Regions from separate parts of the Homo sapiens genome. Here region 1 is linked to region 2. Evidence: fine-mapped QTL for protein levels in blood plasma. Region 2 holds a variant in brackets. A gene starts in the other region. All regions are shown on their reverse strands.

Evidence for each region. PIP is the chance, under the fine-mapping model, that this variant and not a neighbour inherited with it causes the effect. Protein levels are from antibody-based Olink assays in UK Biobank. Linkage for the fine-mapping came from a reference panel and not from the study's own genotypes, which makes the PIPs less certain.
Region 1: it holds the start of COL28A1, and the variant in region 2 is fine-mapped to the plasma level of the COL28A1 protein (UK Biobank, PIP 0.93).

What each region holds. Positions count from the first base shown.
Region 1 is chr7:7,527,970-7,544,453 of GRCh38, reverse strand. COL28A1 (collagen type XXVIII alpha 1 chain) reads left to right here and starts at 8,581. Exons shown (of 35, transcript NM_001037763.3): 1 at 8,581-8,704; 2 at 11,542-11,702; 3 at 12,550-13,106. The coding sequence starts at 11,579.
Region 2 is chr16:75,141,365-75,148,464 of GRCh38, reverse strand. It overlaps a transcript of ZFP1 not described here. Among named protein-coding and RNA genes, the nearest start is that of ZFP1, 3.6 kb to the left of the region's middle. RefSeq lists an enhancer at 81-130. The variant T/C (reference allele first, on the strand shown) is at 2,239.

The DNA of each region.
Region 1 (16,484 bases), not on the chromosome of region 2:
CTATAAATTTCCCTCTACACACTGCTTTGAATGCATCCCAGAGATTCTGGAATGTTGTGTCTTTGTTCTCGTTGGTTTCAAAGAACATCTTTATTTCAGCCTTCATTTCGTTATGTACCCAGTAGTCATTCAGGAGCAGGTTGTTCAGTTTCCATGTAGTTGAGCGGTTTTGAGTGAGATTCTTAATCCTGAGTTCTAGTTTGATTGCACTGTGGTCTGAGAGATAGTTTGTTATAATCTCTGTTCTTTTACTAGTTTGTCTTTTAAGTTGTTTTTGAAATTACAGAACATTTATGGATTTTTACTGTTTACAAAGCTCTTTTGATACTCACCACAACACTGTGAGAGAGGTGTTATTTTTGTTGTTGATTCGGATGCTGCTGTTGCTATCCTTATTTTTATTGGGCTCCTCCTCATAGTCTTCACTTGCGGATGTGGAAACTGTGTAAGGCTTTCAGAACTTACAGGTCCAGCGTCAAAAAGTGGCAGAACCAATTCTCAGACCTGTGTGCTGTACTCTTTTAAGAGGCAAGAGCGCACCGCACAGCCTGGAAGTTAGGTATAGTCTCTGGTGTGCTGAAGATGGCTCATGTCACCTTGTGAGGGTCAACTGCTAAATTTCCAGAAATTTTTTGAGCCAGTTGTTAACCGCAGATATTATTAAATGTTGTATTATATATTTAACTTACAAGTAAATAAATTACATTAAAAACAATAGTAATAAATACTCAAAACTCATTACTTCCTAATTATTTACTAAATCTTACTATTGTGTGTGTACTTGAAGTTGTTTGCATCCATGGCAACTATATGATGGAAATCCTGCATAGTGGTATGCTGCTATATATTTGTGTTTCTCTTTGCAACCCTGTGTTCAGTGATGTCACATTAGTAATTTGAAATCTGACATAGTAGGACTTTTTACACAATAGAAATCTGCTACAAATTAGGGCTTGAATTACTGTCTTATTTATTGTCTAGGCCAAAGAAAGTGATGGAGAAAACAATAATGCAGATTAAACTCAAAAGTGTATTTTATCTGTAACAGTTGAATAAGAAAAAAACTAAGAAAATGTTTCAGTATTTGAAAAGTATTATATTATTCAGCTACAAAGTTGCTTATATCATTGACAAACAAATGAAGTTTCAATGCACATGCACCTTTTTCTTTGTTTCATTTTTGTCTTACTTGTTCAAGAAGAGGAAAATGCCAACCAACATTCTTGTTGGAACTATACTCATTCATCAATTACAACCATAGATTGGCTAAAGATATAAGAATTTGGCCAAAAATCAATGAAAGCAATCTGTATGAATCAGTTTGCTATATAGAATTTATAATAGAGAATATTGTGTATTTTATTATTATTTGAAAATTTTATACCATACGTTCTTTATCAATAACATTTCTGATAAACTTACGTATGTATATGTGTACAATACACTTTTTTCCCCAGAGAGACAGTTATTAAATACTTTTTGGCAGACTGCTGGGTACCATCTTTCTCCTTCATTTCTTCCACTTTCCTAGGCCAATTAGGTACTAAGCTCTTTGATTCTGCTTCTTAATATTTCTTAGACTTCTTCACTTTGCATTCTCATTGCTGGTACTTGAGAGCCTTATCTCTCATTGGTGTCATAGTAAGTTTCCTAGTAGATCTCAGCCTCCAAGCTTGTTTTCCTGCCATTATTCACACAGCAATCAGAGTGATTTTCCTAGCATGAAAGTGTGATCATGTCACAACCCTGCTTAAAATTGTTCAGTGGCTCCCGTTGCTTTCAAGATAAAGTTTAAACCCTTTAACATGGCATAAAAGAAACCACTGTTTATCCTCTGCTCCTGCACTTCCAACTTCCATATCACAGTCTGACCTGGGTGCCCTCTGTGTAAGTCTCTTTTATAGATGTTATCACACTATATTGCTCTTGCTCTTTTTGGCCTAATATTTTGTTATGAAAATTGTCAAACATACAGAAAAGTTAACAGAATTATACAGCAAACCCATTACCTGCCACCCAGATTTCACAATTGTATTTACAATGAACATATTTGCTCTATTGCATAATCTACCCATCTACCCATTCTTCTACCCGTCTCTTTTCTTCTCTTTTTCTTTCTTTTTTTAGATGGGATCTCACTCTGTGGCCAGGCCGGAGTGCAGTGGTGCCATCTCAGCGCACTGGTTCAAGCAATTCTCCTGCCTCAGCCTCCTGAGTGGCTGGGATTACAGGCATGCACCACCACGCCCAGCTAATTTTTGTATTTTTAGTAGAGACGGGGTTTCACTATGTTGGCCAGGATGGCCTTGATCTCCTGACCTTGTGATCTGCCCGCCTCGGCCTCCCAAAGTGCTGGGATTACAGGCGTGAGCCACCGCACCCAGCCCCATCTTCTTTCTTTATGATGCATTTCAAAGTAAGTTGCAGACACTGGTAAATTTTGTTCCCAAACCCTGCAGCATGGTATTGTCAACTAGAGTTAGATATGTGATTACTTAATTTTTTTTTTTTTTGGGTAAAACTTGCCATTGCTCTTTACTTGCTTATTTTCTTCACTGGGTTGAAGTGACTGCATCTATCTGTTTTCTATCCAGTGCCTCACATATAGTAGAAACTAAGTTGATGTTAGTTAAGTGAATGAGTTATGGATTTCATCAGATGTTACTTAGAGAGCTTCTTGATCCTATATAAGAGTAGTTTTATCACTCTTTCGTTCGTCTCCTCATTCTTCTGCCCAAAAAAGCTGTAGAAAGCAACTTTTATTCCACCCGTTCAGCATCACAGACGATTAAAATTTTTCATCTGTTAACAATAGTTGACAAACTCTCACACTATGTCTTTCTACAAAGTCCCACAAGGTGGTGCCCAAATATCTTTTTTCAAACAACACTTCCTGAAGACCCATGCAGAGTCCTGACTAAATTGTGTTAGTATTTGGCATTTCTGAATTTGGTCAATTAGAATAACAGAAAATATATAATTAAGTAAAAGTTACTCAACATTAAATAACATTATATATGTGATTTCAAAATCTATAGTTCTGGATATAAACAATGAATAATGATAATAGGTACTTTATTTCTGTGTAGAATTTAGTATTATTAAAAGGTTGTTCATATCCCCAAATAGGAAAAAAAAAATTCACCTCAAGTCCCCTTTTCTATAAATTTTGTCCATGAATAATTTACCCTTAGTATAGAATTTCTAAGGGCAGAAGGAGAAACAAACTGTTGTGCAGGAGGAACTATATAATTTAGATGCAATGAAAAAAACAGATGACCCTATTACCTTAACTGGGAACAATGTTGTGTAAACCAGCATTGTAACGGCTTAATATAACATGGGATAATAAGTTACTTAATGCTCTTAAAACACTTTTATTCCAGAAATTTAGAAGAGTTATTTTAAAACTTTTTTTGGATATTCTTATTAAATCTCAATACACTGACCAGAAAACCCAAGTAGGTATTGTGTTTCTACAACTTAATATTCATGCAAATGATGATATCTACCTATATTACTGGCTATGTTTTGATTAGGGATCAGTTATTGAAGTAGCTGTAACAATCCCCAGCTACTCAGATAAACCTGTCCAAACCTGGAGGAGAAAGTTTTTCAACCCAGGGTTCGAAGAGGTGGTGTTCATTGCCTTTAATGGCCCAGGCACTAAGATTTACACAGTGAGAGGTGAGACTCTTTAATGTGCTGGGACTTAGCCCATGATGATTTGTTCTGAGCCATTTGCCACTAAAGTTAAATCCTTATAAATATAAATTATTAGCCATACAGCTTCCTTTTTCTCCTGCTCAAGCACAAGCCTGGATAGCGCAAAGGCCTAAAAATTTTCTAGGGCATTTAGAGATAATGAAAGATGGCCACTTTGATGCACAAAGACCTAAATTTTAGTCCCTCACTGATTAATGATTTGACCTTTGGGTGGGTCTTAATATCTGTCCTCTATTTTATCAACTGTGAAATGGCAGAATTAAATAAAAGTGGTTTCTAAGTTTCCTTCCAGTTCAGAGATTTAACACTATTGTTTGTCCCCAATACAAGAAAAGTTTAAATACCAATCAGTGGTTATCAAATAATTCACCAAGATCTAGAATAACACTGTCTAATATCTGAAAGTAAAATGAACTAAGTGAAAAATAGAAATATTTTGCCATTTAAAGCAGAGTTTAGTCAAGGTATAAATAGATCTGATCTTTCTCTATTTGTAGGCTCTGCATGAAAAAGTTAAAACTGCTCTATCCATTGACCAAAGAAAATAATTAAAGAAAAATATTGAACATTCAAACCTATGATAGGACTAGATCAATCTACTTTCAGATATTTCTTAGAAAAAAAATTGTAAAACTTTCCAGATGGCACCTTGATTTATTTTTGGTCTAAAATAATTGCATTTAGTCAGGAATAAACAACATGGAAAGAAGAAATATTAATATTGAAAAAATATTTTAGAGAAAGAGATTAATAGTCATAAGATTGGTATAACGGGAATTTAGCCTGTCACTGTAGCCTATGAGGCACTGTGTGTTGCAAATGTGACACAATTATTCAAGCTGGGGATTGAATGACAAATAATGAAGCAAGAGATCTTAGGGAGTAAACGATATAAAAGATAATTGAGTCCGTGTTGCTGTACCCCGAAACTGCTCTAAACCATAAAGTTTATTAAATAATAGTAACAATTGAAAAATAGTAGAGGGAATGTGGAAGGATCAACTCAATCAGAATTTGGTGAGGGCATAGGAACTGAAGTCACGCTGTTCCACATTTAAGCAATGCCACATCCTGTATTTTATTACCAATGATAATTTTTATTTTCTTATTGTCTTTGAATGCTTTTAATCTTTCCCTTTGTTGACAAATAAGACCAATACAGTTTTGGTGTTTGCCATGGTTTGCATATTTGCCCCCTCCAAACCTCGTGTTGAAATTTCATCCCCACTGTTGGAAGTGGGGCCTGATGGGAAACGTTTGGGTCATGTGGGTGGATCCCTTATGAATGACTTAATGCCATCCTTGCGGTAATGAGTGTGTTCTCTCTGTATTAGTTCCTGGGGGAGCTGATTCTTTAAAAGAGTCTGACACCTCTCTCCCTGCTCTCTTGCTCCCTCTTACCATATGATCTGCACACGCTGGTCCCCTTTCACCTTCTGCCATGAGTAGAAGCAGTCAATGGCCCTCACCAGAAGCAGATGCTGGTGTCATGCTTCTTGCATAGACTGCAGAATTGTAAGCCAAATAAACCTCTTTTCTTTATAGATTACTCAGCCTTAGGTATTCCTTTATAGCAACACAAAATGGACTAAGACAGTGTTCCTCTAATTACTGATGAAGGAGTTGAGAGAATGCCTAGGTCATATTCTGGGTCCAAGGATAATGAATCCCAGAAATTTCAGAGCTTTGGGGCAGGTGTTAGAAATTCTACTATATCAAGCTTTTCTACTGACAAAAAGAAGAAAGAGAAAGAAAGAAAGAAAAAGAAAAAAAGAAAGAAAGAAAGGAAAGGATCTTCAAGAACAAATTTCTTCAAATCAGGTACGAAGGTCATTAATTTCTTCCTTGTTAGTTGGTAATGTTTTTTTTTTTCTACTCTAGATCAGCAGTGTGGGAGGTGGCTAAAATAGGGAGAAGCTTGTGAAACTATACTATGCCTTAATCTTGGTCAAAATATATAACTTTGATTTGTTACCAGCCTTTTTTTGTGTGTATTTCTATGACTTCATGCAGATACAATTCTCTGAAATATGTAAGTCCTAGCAGACTTGTCTCTTTTTAAATGATTCTAGGACCCCAAAATATCATCACCACTGAAATTAAGATGTTGGCACTGGTACTAGAATCAATAAACACAATGCAGATGCTACTATGGTAGCATATTAAAAGAATTTGAAAAAGTTGAAAAAAGATTTTCATCTAGCAGAGCTTTGGAGAAGAGCAATTTATTGTATCACAGACCTCAAGTGACTGATAAACACTAAAAATTACTTCTAATAATCATTTATTTCACAAATATGACTGCTTACTCTGGGCTATTTATAGTAGTAACAATGAAAATAGTGTGCTATATTTCTTCCATAAAGACTTTTACTACAAAATAACTGTCAGAAGGGCATGGGCTCCACGTTGCCTTTTTCTAGTCATTATGGTTATCCATGCTCTCTTATTTGTTCTGGTGTAAGTCCAATAGCATACTAATTCAAGACCATCTGTTGGGATTAAGATTGTGGTGCATTGTTTCTCTGGGTGCAAAACTAATTGTCTTTTATAGATTGATGAAACTGAAGATTTTATTTTGCATAATCTTCCCAATTAATTTAGTGCTGATTTTCACGCTTGAGAATGAGAGGTGGCAAATCTTTGGTTTGAGTTACCCTATTTAATGTTGGAGAATGAAAGGGAATGGATGACTAAGTTGGACTCCAACCTCCCACCAACTTTAATCAAAACAGCTCCAAGGCAGGAGGGCTTTAGTCCATTTCCCCCATCTAGGAATCACCTGTTTGCTTCTTAGTGGCATTATTATTCTGCATGTTTTTAACCTGCCTCAGCAAAAAGAGAGTTGACCTGAAAAGATGCTACTTCCTTGTCTCTTGATTCTCATCTTACAAAAGTAAAAAGTGTGACTAACACCCATAGGCTATCAGGTAAATACATGGTTGTTCCCTAGGAAATTCCGTTGTTATTTCTGCATTATACCCACCGTTTCTTCTTTCTGTTACCAAAGCCTCACAAAACTTCCTCAGTTCCTCGAAACCTGTTTTGTGAGGAGGAGACAGTGAAAACACAGACGTTCGCATAGATACTTAATGATGCAGTAGTTGTTATAAGTGAGGCTCACAGGTCTTACCAGCCTGAGTTAAAAGTTCATTTTGCCATTCTCTGGTTTTAGTATGACAGCGGACAAGTTACTGAACCTCTCTCTGCCTCCATCTTGGAAAAATTCGAATTCTTACAACATCTACTAAGTACAAGGGGTCCTGGAATAATATTTTGTTCAATGTCATTTTGTTATAACATTGATGAGAAAAAAAATTCAATTCCTGGGCCAGGCTCACTGTGTGGAGTTGACATGTTTTCCCCATGTCTGTGTGGGTTTTCTCCAGGTCCTGGAGTTTCCTCCCACATCCCAAAGCTTTGCCCATTAGATGCATTGGTGTGTCTACATGGTGCCTGTCTGAGAGAGTGGGTGGGTGTATGAGTGCCCTTTGACAGTACTGCATCCTGTCCAGGGCTGGTTCCTGCCTTGTATCCTCAGCTGCTGGGACAGGATCTGGTCAACCGTGACCCTGAACTGGAATATGCAGGTAAGCAGTTATCTTGTTTTTATCAATCTTTCATAAATGTATATATAGCTTAGATTTATTTCAATGTTTATTATTAGAGGTGTTTTGAGTATTTAGAGGTTTAGTGATGTTTTTGTGACTAGGAATATGCCATAAGAGCTTAACTCTTATTTATATCAATTAGCTCTTGGGAAAATTGTCTTCATTATCAATTGTTTCACTTTATGTCACAGTTTCCAGAACCTACAGAGGACATTAAGTGAGGACTTACTGTATATAGGTGGTTGTGCTTGTGAAGGATTAAATGAGGTAATGTGTGTGAAGCACTCAGGACAGTGCCTAGCACCTGGTAAGTGTCCATGAATTGGAGGCTATTATTGCTGTAATAAGGAAATTCATACACATTAAAATGGCTAAGAAAGTTCATTTTAAATAACCGTAACATGCACATTTGTATTGCTTTCTCGGATGATCTTGCTATTCTCTATTTCAGAGGAAGTCCGTGGAGAAGCCTGCCTGTTAGCTGTCTAGGGGTCAGGTGGCTTCTTGGCAGTATATATTACATGATAAACATTGACTTAATATGGACCATAACCACAAGGTAGAAAATAGGGAAACAGGGAGTGGAAAAACCACAGTGATCCTTTCCTAGAGAGAGACCAAAATATTAACCGCTGTAAACCTCTCATGTTACAGTTCGAACACATCTTAATAAATGATTAAATCTACTCTCTCATTTCATAAGTGGGGAACTGAAGCCCCCATAAAAGTTAGGGGCAGAACTATGACTATACTCAGACCACTCTTTCCCTGTATATTATATATACCTTTTATTATAAAAAATTTCAAAAATCACAGAAATACAAAGACTAGAACAATGCACACCTATGTACTCATCATCCAGCTTTAATAACAATCAAACTGTTACCTCTCTTAAAAAAACAGCTTTGATTCTGAGTCTGGTGTCATTTATACTCCTTCACAGAGATGTTCAGAACCAGTATCTTAGAGCACATCCCCCAGGCAAAGAAATGTAGCAATAAAAAGAGAAGGACATAGCATGAGAAAAAAAGGCAGGCTGTCAACCAATGCCTAAAATGTAGAAAGTTCTCTCAAGTTGTTTTTACAATAGTCTGGAAAACACAGTCTCATTCTGAAAGGACACTGTTCCTTTAAATTGCTTACTGATCCCACCCAGATCTTGCACCCTGGCCAAATGCCTGACCACTCTTGCTTTGACTTAGTCGAATAAACATGAACAAAAGACTGCAAAAGATCCTAAAGCAAAGACACTTTTATTTCCCACAGAACAGAACAATATCAAATAGCTAACTTCACCCCCAACCACAGTCCTTGCTGTTGGCATTTACTCAACTAGTCTTTAATTCCTGTTTGACAAACTTTATAAGGTAAGACATAACAGATTTATTTTAGTCACTTGAAATCAGATAGGACCATCAAGGAACTGTGGAAGACTAAATGACTTACTTACATAATTATTAGGTGAGAAAGCTTGTCAATAGTTTGTATTCTCTGCAATTACTTCAAATCAATTATTAGAAAAATATTAACATTGTTAAAATGTAGAAATTTAAAACTTAAAATTATTTTGAAATGGATTTTTAATTTACAGTCTTCTAAATTGTTTTACAACGATGTTAATATATTTTAGGACATCTTTTTCTTAATTTGGAACAGGGTTTACAATTCAGAATTAGTTATAGAATACTTTACAACTTGGCTAATTTGTCAATTTGAATAAAGTCTTTATTCAATCATTTTCTATTTGTGTAGAAACTGAGATGCAAACATTGTAACTAAAGTTGGTGAACTCTGATATAAGATCATTTTATTTTTGAAAAATTATAAAAAATAAAGTATCTTGGATTTATTTACTGATCCTGATATTTACCCCAAATAAATTTTAGGCCAAAAGTAAAACTACGGTATTTGATTAATAATTATGATTGTTTCTGCATTTATAAAATGTAACCTATAGTAAACACAGAGGTTCACATTTCTTTCACTTAACTAATGGCACTGTTTCCTCTGAAACCTATTTTGCTTGTACGTGACATCAGAAAGAGAGAAAGGTGAGAATTATTAAAAACAGAGGCAAAATAAAACATGGTAAAAAGTGATTAGAAATGAGTGGGCTCTCAAGATGCCAAATTAATAAACGAGAAAGATATTTCAGGGAAGCAGTAGAACTAACAAGCTAGAGAAACAAATCTAGAGAGGTATGAAAATGTCCTCTGGCTACAATAGGGAAACAGAAAGAAATAACAAGACTTTGGTTTGGGAGAGCTAGATTAACAATGTCAGAGCAAATAAGAACAAAATATGAGATACTGGGATTATTGTCAATGGAAAAGTTATGTTTGTGAATATCATATATACAGGGATCAGGTACAAATTCATGATTATATGCCAAGAAAACAGTAAGAGCAGGTGCTTAGTTTTGGGAAAAGATAAATCTTTATTTAAAGCCAGTATTTCTAAAACCTTACATGAAGGGTTTTGAAGAGTTGCTTGATTATGTTGCTTATAAAATCTTGCTCAGTTCTCAATGGAATTCAGTTCTCAGCCTCTTATTTCCAGAACTTCTGAGATGTTCCTTATGGTATGAACTCAACCAAAGAGAAAAGTCATATGTAATACCATGGCCATGGTGTTATTCCCTTTCCCCTTTGAAAATGCAATAACAACTGTGTTTTTCACATAGCCTTATCTTTACACTAACCTTCAGACTTAAAGTTGTACATCATTTATTTTTTTCCTTGGTTAGCAAAGGGACAACTTGAGGAGAGATGGCCTTTGTGTGTTCTGTTTCCTTAGCACATTTCTTGGTTTTGTTTTGTTTTTAATACCCAGCTGTCTTTACATTTTAGTATACCTTGTCTGAGGATCAGTTGGCATTTGGCCAATTGCTACACAAGATGTTTGGTCATACCTATCCAAAGTTCTTTTAATACACTTCCAGCTGGATGATGCTATGTGAGGAGCAGACTGTGGCATGAAGCCATCCATTGGTCCTCTCCTAACCCAACAGTTTTGTTTCCCTTTGGGGTTTATCCATCTGGCATGTATGAAAAAAGTCAGTCTCCATCTCACTCCTCACTGCCTTTGCATATATTTCCACTCTCTACTCAGAGTCTGGAAAAATCGTGCTCATGATTTCCCAGATTCTTATCCCCTAAAGGCAAGGTGCCAAAGAAGGAAAATGTGATTCCTTTTCCAGAACTCCTGAAGTCAATAAAGTTTCAGCAGGCAAGCATTTTTAAGCCATACTAAGTATTGATTCGAAATAAGCTTTCTCGTTCCCATTCTCTTGGGTATACTGAGGCAGCAACACATGAGTCTTCTCCTCCCAGGGAAATCTGTCAGTTTAAGAGTCAGTTGGTGTGTAGCTAGGCATATTGACTGATGAAGATTGAGGATTTTAATACAGAATTAGATTTTTCGTTGTTAATCCACCCAGAAAAATAGTTTCACGGGGCTATTCAGAGGGGGTGCTTCTTGGCTTTAAGTCCCGTTTCTGTCCATTAGTTCTTTTAGCCATCACTGGAAGAAGAGTGTTGCTTTTAAGCAAATCTATTATTTTTGCTCTCATACTCTTTTGATTCATTGCATATGCAGCTTTGAACCCCTGGTGGAGACAAAGTTTCCAAAGCTAGGGTAGAAAAGAGAGATGGGGTTCTATGGAAACAGAAGGGTCGTTTAATTTTTACCTTGACCTCTGAACTCACTGAAGTTATGTGTGTAGTATTAAGCCTGAAAGGGTGGTGGTTGTCTACAGTTCTACAAAATACTAGATTTGTCAGGAATCAGTTATAATGAAAGTGAATGAAATGACCATATAGCAATCTGAATTCCCCCTGAAGAATTTGGAAATGTCAAAGCAGACCCTGTGATTGAACCACAGTAATCATATAGAGCGGGATTGAAATGTTTTTAAATGGCTCTCCCAACTCTATGCTCCTCAAAATACAATGCGGAATTAAGAATACTTAAATATAGTTCTTTGAATATATAGAAATATTCACTAATAAATGTTTGGTCATGGTGCCATGATTTATTTGGATTGAAATCTTTCAAAATCTCAATGTGAATATTTTTCTAGAAATATGAATGAAAACCTCTTTTTTCCAGTCACATGCCAGTTTTCAACCCTGCTGGCTTGAAATTTAAAAATAACAAACACCATATTTTATTAAAGTATTTGTAACTGACTTTTCTATTAAAGGTGCTACAAGACAGATGATTTTTCACCATCTACCATAATGTGGAACAGATATTTTGTCTTCTATCTCCTGCTTTTGTCAGCGTTTACGAGTCAAACAGTATCCGGACAAAGAAAGAAAGGACCAAAATCAAATTTGCTTGCAAGGAAAAGTGATGTCCAGGGTAAAAAAAAAAAAATTGTTTGTTTTTAAGTTTAGCCTGTTAAAAATACTTATGTGAATTTTTCTAAATAGCATTTGATATAAATAGCAAGCCATATACATGTATACATGTGATAGTCTACTTTGATAAAATTATATGATGATAATATACCTTACATACTTATAGCACATCAGAGTCTTTAATAAGAGCACTTGTGCACTTATTATCTCATTTGAGCCTCACAGTAACCTTGTAAAATAGGCAGGACGGAGATTGCCACTCATAGTGTAGATTAAAAAAATTGAGGTCTTAACAGGTCGAGTGGCATACTCAAGGCCATAGGCAAATTAACCACTGAGACACAGAGCTGGGATTTAAACTTAAGTTGTGTTTAAGTTAGGTTTCTTCTCCACTTACTCTTGGTATAGGGGGTATAGTCATTTTCTCCCTTGATTTCAAGAAAGTTTAAAAAAAAATAGGGACTCACCAATATGACACAACCTGAGAATTAGAGTATCATTTACTTCTAGACAACTATGCTCAGTGTTAGTTGGATTTTTAAAATGTGATGCATCTTGACTTCCCATTTCCTCCCACTTTCAGCAGGTTTAACATTGAAAAGATGCTCAGAATAAAAGATATCTTATTTATTTTTAATTTGCATGATTTTACAAGGAGAAAATAATTCATAAACTTAGACATTTAGTTTTTTACAATTGAAGCCTTCTGTCCAACGTGTCTCTCTTTCTCTCCTCACGCTGCTCTCAACACCAAACAATATACAACACACCACTTCAGGGCTTTCCGTATGCAAATTTGTTTCATGATAGGAATAATTATTTTGCCTAACCTGTTTATTCTGTTTCAGGCTCCATTTGTTTCATAGATATTGTCTTCATCGTGGACAGCTCTGAAAGTTCTAAAATTGCCCTCTTTGATAAACAGAAAGATTTTGTGGATAGCTTGAGTGACAAGATTTTCCAATTGACTCCTGGTCGCTCCTTGGAATATGACATCAAACTGGCAGCCCTTCAGTTTAGCAGCTCTGTCCAAATTGATCCACCTTTTTCTTCCTGGAAGGACCTGCAGACATTTAAGCAGAAGGTCAAGTCTATGAATTTAATAGGGCAAGGTACCTTCTCTTATTATGCCATTTCCAATGCCACTAGGCTACTTAAGAGAGAAGGGCGTAAGGATGGTGTGAAAGTGGTTTTGCTGATGACTGATGGCATCGACCATCCAAAGAATCCAGATGTTCAAAGTATTTCTGAAGATGCCAGAATTTCAGGAATATCATTTATCACCATTGCACTTTCTACGGTAGTCAATGAAGCCAAACTTCGTTTGATTTCTGGGGATTCATCCAGTGAACCCACTTTACTGTTGAGTGATCCAACCCTTGTAGATAAAATTCAAGATCGTCTGGTAGGTACCTAATGGGTTGATTATACAGTTATCATCATAATATTGACATATTTGTTGTAAATCCCATAAGAAGAGATACTGGGTCAAAAAGATGGAGAAAATGAGAGTTAACACTGAAAACAGAAAGAAGAATCTTTCTGAAGTGTCACTCCACTTTCTTGGCAGTTTACTCCAGACAATCTGGAAAAGTTCCAGGCTAATTCCCTGGAATTGCATTTTTAACTTTATTGCTAGCTGATGCTGAGGATTTTGGAAGGGGTTATTTTCCAATCATATACCTTAAGCTCCTGTTTATACAGCCTACAATCATGAACATTGCTGACTTATATTCAGGTTGTGCTCAACTTGAGGTGTTAGGCTATATTTGTACCAAGTTGGTCTTTTCCCATTCCACATCTGTACAGGTATTTTTGACATAATCTTGACATATTCTCTCTTACTCTTCTAAAGGACTGAGTATTTTTGACTCTGTCTCACCTATTGTTACATTATGCTACTCAAAGTTCATAGACTTCCAATTTTTAAAATTACCTCCTTCTTTCTTAGATGTTCTCAAGCCCATCCAATTTAAAATCATCTGCAACCTGCAGTCAAGCAACAGTTTCTCCCATCAAATCAATGAGTCCCACTTGATAGGTCTGGTCAGCTTTTCTTTGTTTGTTGCTCAGCTGTGTATAAAAGCCTTTCCTTGCTGCTTTGTAAAACACACGGCACCACAATCAAAAGGAAATCCCTCTTCACAATATTTCTCAAGGAGAAAACGCCTAGAGATAAATTGGTTGATTGGCTGAGTGTTAAAAACTGATTTTCTTAAAAACTTGGATTTCTTTGATTTCCTGAGAAAGGAAGGCAAAGGTGTCCTTTATGTACTGAGCGTTTCATATGGCTGTTTTCTACAGCTTGCACAGAAAACTCAGGCTCTATTTCAGAGATTGTTTTGCTCCTTTTGTCTTATCCCTCGATCTTTTTCTCAACATTACTCTTATCTTTTTACTCTCTGTTGCTTTCAGCATAAGATCTGAGGTTTTCTTACCTAAATAATAGCTCTTAGGTATTGAGTACTCTCTCTGTATTAGGCATTTTCCTGAACACTTTATATATTTTATTTTATTCAATGTTTGCCACAATCTTATGATGTAGGTAATGTTATTATACCCATTTTGTAGTTGAAAATTTAAGGCCGGTGAAGACCTCACAGTTTGCATGCTTAACCCTATAAAGGCATATTGAGAGAGGAAATAGTAACTGCTTTTTAAAAAAATATTTTCTCAATCAGAACTGCTCTGAAACAGTTTGGTAGCAGCCCTCCTCCAAAGTTACTATTGTTTCTAGCCTTTTTTTCCTTGGGGATTCGGGGTAAATGGGAGAGTTATGCCTAGATCAGAGATAGAGCTGATGGGCCCAGTCCTGTGGTGCTCAAGGTAAGTACTCATTCTGAGCAGCTCTTTTGCATGAAAGGGAAATTTGTAGTGGTTCCTGGCTAACACTTAGCCCTGCCTGTGCCATGACTTAAGGGGTCCTCACCACTGAACATAAAACAGAGGGCTCCAGCCCGTGTGGGAGAGAATCCTGGTGATGTGGTCATGAGTGGGCTGTTGTTACTTATTCATCTTCACCTTAAGATGGATAAGAGCTGACCATAGAAGATGCGGGACAGGCAGCTCCTTGTTTGGCCACAGGTGTAGGCTCAGGTTGTTCATATTCCCACCAGATACACCCTCGCTGAGAGCACCTGCTTCACTGAGAACACAGGCTCTTGGCAGTAGACTGGAAGCAAAATTGTTTGTCTGTTCCTGGGCAAACAGAAAATGACTGAATACTGCTCTTCCTTAGCATCCGGCGACTTCAGCTTGTTTGTTTAGCATCTGTGATTTCAGCTTGTTTGTTCAGATGGAAGCTCCATGAATAAACCACTTTTTAGAAGGAGGTGCTGCTTTCCAAACACTTACAGGATCCAAAGTGCTTATTAGGCTCTTCAAAGAATGGTATACCAACTTTCAATGTTACAAATTGCCACCATCTAGAAGGCAGAACTTGACTCTTTTTTTTTTTTTTTTTGAGACAGAGTTTTGCTCCTGTCACCCAGGCTGGAGTGCAGTGGCACGATCTTGGTTCACTGCAAACTCTGCCTCCCGGGTTCAAGCGATTCTCCTGCCTTAGTTTCTCAAGTAGCTGGCATTACAGGCGCCTGCCACCATGCCCGGCTCATTTTTTTGTATTTTTGAGTAGAGATGGCCAGGCTGTTCTCAAACTCCTGACCTCAGGTGATCTGCCCGCCTCGGCCTCCCAAAGTGTTGGGATTACAGGTGTGAGCCATCGCGCCGGGCCCAGAACTTGACTCTTGATGAGACCATTGGAAAAATTCTTTATCTAATCCCTTTCTATTACATCTTTAGTTGAATTTTTAAACTTTTTATTTTAAAATAATTATGTAGTTGACTTTTTAAATAAGTTAATTAGGTATGATTTAAGTACACAACTGCATTAACTTAAAGGGCACAATTCCATGAGCTTTTGACATAGGTACACACCTATGAAACTACCAACACAATTAGGATAGAGAACATTTCCATCACCTCCCCAAATTGCCTCATATCTCTTTGTAAGACCCCATTTGCTCCTGAGCTACTGATCTTACTTTTGTGACTCTAGATTAGTGTATACTTTCTAGAATTTTATACAAACTCAAATAGTATGTATTATTTTTGTGTCAGGCTTCTTGTACCCAGTATAATGATTTTCAAACTCATCAGGGTTTTTTTCTGTATCAGAAGTTTACTCCCTTTTATTGTAGAATAGACTTTAGTTGAATTTAATGGACACGAGTATACAGAATGAATAGATTCTTCAGGAGCAAAGACAAAACAAATCATTGCAAATTCCTTGATGCCTCTAGTAGGAATTATCATGTAAGAACCCCATAGAAACATTTTAGTTCTGAATTACTCAAAAGAGACTTAATGACTCCAAATTGAAGAAGACATGTAATATATTTTTATTGCTATTTTTATTATAATTTACATAATAGTATTGAAACCAAACAAACAAATTCATTCCAAAGTCCTGGATATATTACTTGGTCCTGTAGAAGAGTAAGAGAGGATATGTGAAAATTAAAGACAATTTTTTCCCTCTATTGCCTTTGATGTTAAGTATTTAAAAAGCCTTTATGGAAATAAGGGTTGTGACAAATTTGTCTTTTTTTCTGAACGATTTTTAAAAAACATAAATTTAAGGTATTCCCTCCCTCACATACCAAGAAGAGATCAATGTGATGATGTCTATATCATCTTTAGAATCCTATGCTTTCTTAATCTATTAATTATGATCACTTTCCATTTTTTCAAGACTTCCTCTGTTTAGGGCCTTATTTTTCTG
Region 2 (7,100 bases):
AGGGTCCTCGGAGGGGTGGACCATCCACGTTCGGGACTACATTTCCCACAAGCCTCCGGGGCCGCGGCTTTAGGGACTCTCAGGAAAGTCTTCGCCTTGTTAGGCGGTCTGATGAGCCGACCAAAATAATCTCCTTAGCCTGCACTGTTTTCTTTTTTCCCAGAGTGGGTCGTGAACTACAATTCACCACCTCCCCCTTAAATACAACAACTTGGCTTTTAAACATTACACAAATAATCTATAACTGTATTTAATTAGAATATATGTACAAAATAAAGTATCCATAATCTCACTTTCTAAAGATTAACTGCGTATAACATTAAGTTCGCACTTTGATTTTTTTGTTGTTGTTACAAAACTGGCCATAAAGGTATCATGTGCTGCAACTAGCTTTTTTCCCTTTTTTCCCAGGCCACTTTGTTGAGGTATATATATTTGTTGAGATCTATATATTTAAGATGTACAACTTGATATCTACATTTGTGAAATATTCACCATAATCAAGCTAATTAACATGTGCATCACCTCACATAGTTATTTGTCTGATGAGAACACTTAAGATCTATCTTCTTAGCAAATTTCAAGTACACAATATTGTCAACTATCGTCACATAGCTGTGCATCTCCCCAGAACTACTCATCTTGCATAACTGAGACTTTGTACCCCTTGACCACCATCTTCCCATTTCCCTTCACCCTCAGTTCCTTTCATCCTTTAGAACAGTTTTAGGTTCACAGCAAAATTTGAGCAGAAAATACATTGAATTCCCATATAACCCATGTCCCCCCAGCACACACAACCTCCCCAAAGTTGATATCCCACACCAGAACAGTGTATTTGTTACAATTGGTGAACCTACAGTTAAATATCAGCACCTGGCCAGGCTCAGTGGCTCACACCTGTAATCCTAGCACTTTGGGAGCCTGAGGCAAGCAGATTGCTTGAGCCGAGGAATTTGAAACCAGCCTGGCCAAAATGGTGAAACCTCATCTCTTAAAAAAAAAAAAAAAATACAAAAATTAGCCGGGCATGGTGGCACGCACCTGTAGTCCCAGCTACTCGGGAGGCTGAGGTGGGAGGATCACTTGAGCCTGGGAGGCTGAGGTTTCAGTGAGCCAAGATTGTGCCACTGCACTCCAGCTTGGGTGACCCTGTCTCAAAAAGTATAAATTAAAAAACAAAATCATTGGCACCCAAAGTCCATAGCTTACATTAGTGTTCACTTGATGTTGTACATTCTATGGGTCTTGACAAATGCCTGTAACCATTACAGTATCGTACAGAATAGTTTCACTGCCCCCCAAAAAATCATCTGTGCTCCATTTATTCATCCATCCCACAACCCCTGGAAATCTCTGATATTTTTACTGTCTCCATAGTTTTGCCTTTTGCAGGTTGTCATATAGGTGGAATCATACATATGTTGCTTTTTCAGATTGGCTTCTTTCATTTAGTAATATACATTTAAGTTTCCCTCATGTTTCCCTCAAGTTACCCTGGCTTTTTTTTTTTTTTTTTTTTTTTGACACAGGGTCTCACTCTGTCACCCAGGTTGGAGTGCAGTGGTGCGATCATGGCTCACTGCAGCCTCCACTTCCTGGGCTCAAGTGACCCTCCCAGTTCAGCCTCCCAAGTAGCTAAAACTACAGGCATACACAGCCATGCCTGGGTAATTTTTTGTATTTTTTGTAGAGATGGCATTTTGCCATGTTGCCCAGGCTCGTCTCAAACTCCTGGGATCAAGAAATCCTCCTGCCTTGGCCTCCCAAAGTGCGGGGATTATAGGGATGAGCCACTGTGCCCAGCCTCAGTTCGTTTTAGTGCTGCATAATATTCTACTGTCTGCATGTACCAGTGTTTTAAATCCATTCACCTACTGAAGATACATTGGTTGCTTCTAAGTTTTGGCAACTATGAATAAAGCTGCTCTAAACATCTGTGTTCAGGTTTTGTGAGGATATAAGTTTCCAGTTCATTTGGGTAAATCGTATGGTTGCGGCCGGGTGCAGTGGCTCACGCCTGTAATCCCAGCACTTTGGGAGGCCGAGGCGGGCGGATCACGAGGTCAGGAGATCGAGACCATCCTGGCTAACACAGCGAAACCCTGTCTCTAATAAAAATACAAAAATAAAAATTAGCCGGGCGTGGTGGCGGGCACCTGTAGCCTCGGCTACTTGGGAGGCTGAGCCAGGAGAATGGCGTGAACCTGGGAGGCGGAGCTTGCAGTGAGCCGAGAT[T/C]GCACCAATGAACTCCAGCCTGGGCGACAGAGCGAGACCCCGTCTCCAAAAAAAAAAAAAAAAATTAGCATGGTTGCTGGATTGTGTGGTAACAGTATGTTAATGAGACAGGAGAGTTCCCTGGACCCCTTCGCGGGACTTGTCGTGGCTAGCTTACTCAGCCACTGTGCTAAAACCCCTTATGGGAGGGGGAGCACAGAGGCAAGTGGGTGCCAGGGCCAGGGTGAGCACCTTTGGGCTCTGGCCCCATGGTAGCATCTAGGGGTGTGTTACAATTAATGCTCTTCTAGCAGTTGCCATCCATGGACAGCTAAGCGTTAACCAGCTCAGTGGAGAGTGAGGGTGACAGCCTTTTACACCCTGCCCTCTTAATACCCAGGTCCTTGTCCAGCATCCAGAAAGGATCAGGTCACATGGACTTGAAGAATGGTAAATGCAGAGGTTTTATTGAGTGAGGGAGGTGGCTCTCAGCAGGATGGGGAGCTGGAAAGGGGATGGCGTGGGAAGATAATCGTCCCCTGGAGTTCTGCTGTCCCTGGCCAAATTCCTCTCTGACCATCCAGCTACCTCTTCAATGCTCAATTGCTTCTTCTCTTTTCTCCTTCTCCACCACCTTGCTCTGCAGCTCTGCCCCTCTGCCCCTCTGCTGCTCTTCTGTTTGTGGAGCCTGGGATTTGGGGTTCTTATGGGCACAGGATAGAGAGCAGGGTGGGCCACAATGGTCTTGGAAAAGGCAACGTACAGGCGTGAAAACAGGAATGCCTGTTCTCATTTAGGGCCATGGGTCCAAGCTTGAGGGTAAGAACCCTCACCAGGAATCCCGCCCTCCTGCCTCCTGTCCATATCATTAGTTTTGTAAGAGACTGCCAACACTGTCTTCCAAAGTGGCTGCATCATTTTGCACCCACCAACAATGAATAAGAATTCCTGTTGCTCCAATTTCTCACCAGCATTTGTTGTCAGTGTCTTGAATTTTGGCCATTCTAATAGGTATGTAGTGGTAGCAGCTTGCTTTTAATTAAAACAATATCCTCAAACAGGTTCATAGAAAGGTGTTTACACCAATGTTCATAGCAGCATTATTCACAATATCCAAAGGTGGAGACAATCCAAGTGTCCATTAGCTGATGAATGGATACAGTGGAATATTATTCAGCCATATCAAAGAATGACGTTCTGGTACACGCTACAACGTGATTAAAACTTGAAAATACACTAAGTGAAATAAGCCAAGCTGGAGGTAGTGGCATGTGCCTGTGGCCCCAGCTACTCAGGAGGCCGAGGCAGGAAGATCACTTGACCCAGGAGTTCGAGGCTGCAGTGACCTATGATTGCACGACTGCACTCCAGCCTGGGTAGTAGAATGAGACTCTGTTTCTTAAAAGAAAAGAAAAGAAAAAAAGAAAGAAGGCAGACACAAAAGGACAAATACTGTATGATTCCATTTATATGACGTACCTAGGATAGGCAAATTTATAAAGACAGAAAGTAAAACAGAGTTACCAGGGACTGGAATAAAAAGGGATGGGGAGTTAGTGCTTAAACGGTATAGCGTTTCTGTTTGGGATAATGAGAAAGTTCTGGAAGGAGAAAGTGGTGATGGATATACAACATTGTGATGTGAGTGTACACATCAAATTTTTCTGAAGATCTTATTATACCAACATTTAAAAATTATAAATTACCATAACCTATAATCTTATGGAAAGATGTATATACAAGAATGTTCCTCACATTGCCATTTATATTTGCAAAACCTTGGGAAGGATCTAAAAATCTTTTAGTAGGTAAACGTAAAATAAATTGTGGTGATATGTAAGGAGAATTTGGGGAAACACTAAAAAGGATAATGTGTATTACCCACGTGGGGGTTATTTCATTGAGAAATGAAATAATACTGATCACACAAGAATATGTGCAGCGTAATCCTATTTTTGTAAAAAACTATGCATATTTTAAAAAGACTAAACACTGAACTATACGAAGAGAATGGAGAACTCCCCCCACACACACATACACACAAGATAAATTCCCCTTACCGCCTTATGTGTAACAGCACTGAGTAAGCACCACGTGTGTGGGCTGTACTTTTCAAGACCTTCTAAAATTCACAACCACATTGTCCTCTATTAATTTTCCCTGAAAAATAAAGAGAAAGTGTAGCGGGTGTTTCTGAGAAACACATTGCTGACCTGGCCAGCTCATGCAGAGGTTCTAAATGTTGACACCTTTTATTATACAGTATCAAACAACTACATTAATATCACCACTGGTGGCCGGTGCAGTGGCTCATGCCTGTAATCCCAGCACTTTGGGAGGCCAAGGCAGGCAGATCCCTTGAGCCCAGGAGTTTGAGACAAGCCTGGGGAACATGGCAAAACCATCTCTACCAAAAAAATAAACAAAAATTAGGTGGGCGCAGTGGCATGCACCTGTAGTTCCAGCTACTCTGGAAGCTGAGGTGGGAGGTTCACTTGAGCCCAGGAGGTTGACGCTGCAGTGAGCTGTGATCATGCCACTGCATTCGAGCCTGGGCAATAGAGTGAGACTATGTCTCAAAAAAAAAAAAAAAAAAAAAAGATTCACCTCCTGGATCCCCAGAAAAGGGCTTGGAGACCCCAGGGTCTGTAGATCATACTTTAAATGTAATAACAATATTATCACACATAAAAAATTAACAGGGCTGGGCACAGTGGCTCACGCCTGTAATTCCAGCACTTTGGGGGGCCAAGGCGGGCAGATCATCTGAGGTCAAGAGTTCGAGACCAGCCTGGCCAACATATTGAAACCCCATCTCTACTAAAAACACACAAAAAAATTAGCTGGGCCTGGTGGCATGCACCTGGAGTCTCAGCTACTTGGGAGGCTGAGGCAGGAGGATTGCTTGAACTCGAGGGGCGGAGGTGGCAGTGAGCCCAGATCACACCATTGCACTCCAGCCTGGGCAACAAGAGTGAGACTCCATCTCAAAAACAAAAACAAAACAAAAAATTCAGGCCCAGTGAATCCACGTACTCAGATTGTGTGATGTCTTCTCATATATACATTTCCCCTCTATATCTTTTTTTTTATTTGCCATTTAGTTGTTGAAAACACTGGGTTATTTATTCTAAGGAAATTCTATATGGTCTGGATTTTCCTAACCATGTTAAATTTTGTATATCAATTGTCAAAGTCAAATAAAATATAGAAATGAATCTCTAAATGTAAAATGTTTTATTTGGGGACTGGGTGCAGTGGCTCAGGCCTGTAATCCCAGCACTTTGGGAGGCCAAGGTAGGCAGATCACTTGAGGTCAAGAGTTCAAGATCAGCCTGGCCAATATGGTGAAACCTCATCTCTACTAAAAATATAAAAATTAGCTGGGTGTGGTGATGGACACCTGTACTCCCAGATACTTGGGAGGCTGAGGCAGGAGAATCACTTGACCCTGGAGGCCAAGGTTGCAGTGAGCTGAGATCGCACCACTGCACTCCAACCTGGGTGACAAAGTGAGACTCTGTCTCAAAAAATAAAAATATAGATAAAATAACAGGTTTTATTTGGGAAGCAAGAATTGCAATATGAGGCATCCACATAGACTGGGTAGTCTTCAGTATGTCAGAAGAATTAAGTGAAGTTTGGGAATTTTATGAGCAAGAGAAATATTATGAATTGTTTTGAAAGAAGCTCACTGGTGCTAGAGACACTTTTGGGAGCTAGCAAGCTCAGATTGGTGAGTGACAACAGTAGATTAAACTAGTCTTAGAGTGATGGCAGGTCACTTCAGCAGCTACTAGGTCCAACTGGTCTTAGGGTTACAGCAGGACGTTTCAGCAGCTGGCCTCACAGAAAATTTATTTTTCTTTTCTTTTTTTTTTTTTTAGGAAGTCTTGCTCTGTCACCAGGCTGGAGTGCAGTGGTGTGATCTCAGCTCACTGCAACTTCCACCTTCCGGGTTAAAATGATTCTCCTGCCTCAGCCTCCCGAGTAGCTGGGACTACAGGTGTGCACCACCACGCCCAGCTAATTTTTTTTTTTTTTTTGTATTTTTAGTGGAGACGGGGTTTCACCATGTTGGCCAGGATGGTGTCGATCTCTTGACCTTGTGGTCTGCCTGCCTTGGCCTCCCAAAGTGCTGGGATTACAGGTATGAGCCACCGCGCCCAGCCTCTTTTTTTTTTTTTTTTCTTTGAGATGGAGTCTTGCTCTGTTGTTCAGGCTGGAGTGCAGTGGCGCGATCTCGGCTCACGGCAATGTCTGCCTCCTGGGTTCAAGCAATTCTCCTGCCTCAGTCTCTCAAGTAGCTGGGATTACAGGCGCCCACCATCATCATGCCCAGCTCATTTTTGCATTTTTAATGGAGATGGGATTTCACCATTTTGGCCAGGCTGGTCTTGAACTCCTGACCTCAAATGATCCACTCGCCTCAGTCTCCCAAAGTGCTGGGATTACAGACTTGAGCCACCATGGTGCAGCCTCTTTTTCTCTCTTTTTTTTTTTTTAAATTAATTTGTTTATTTTGCAGAGACAGGGTCTCCCTATCCTGCCCAGGCTGGTCTCAAATTCCTGGTCTCAAGCAATCCTCCCAAACCTTGGCCTCTCAAAGCACTGGGATTATAGGCGTGAGCCACTACACACAGATAATTTATTTCTTGGAGTAAGTGCTATGTGCCCTAAGTGCATTTTTTTCTGACCTCTCAACTCTGATTTAGTTGGATATGACAAGAATGACCCAATTTGGGCTGGGCGCGGTGGCTCACGCCTGTAATCCCAGCACTTTGGGAGGCCGAGGCGGGCGGATCACAAGTTCAGGAGATCGAGACCATCCTGGCTAACACGATGAAATCCCGTCTCTGCTTAAAAAAATACAAAAAATTAGC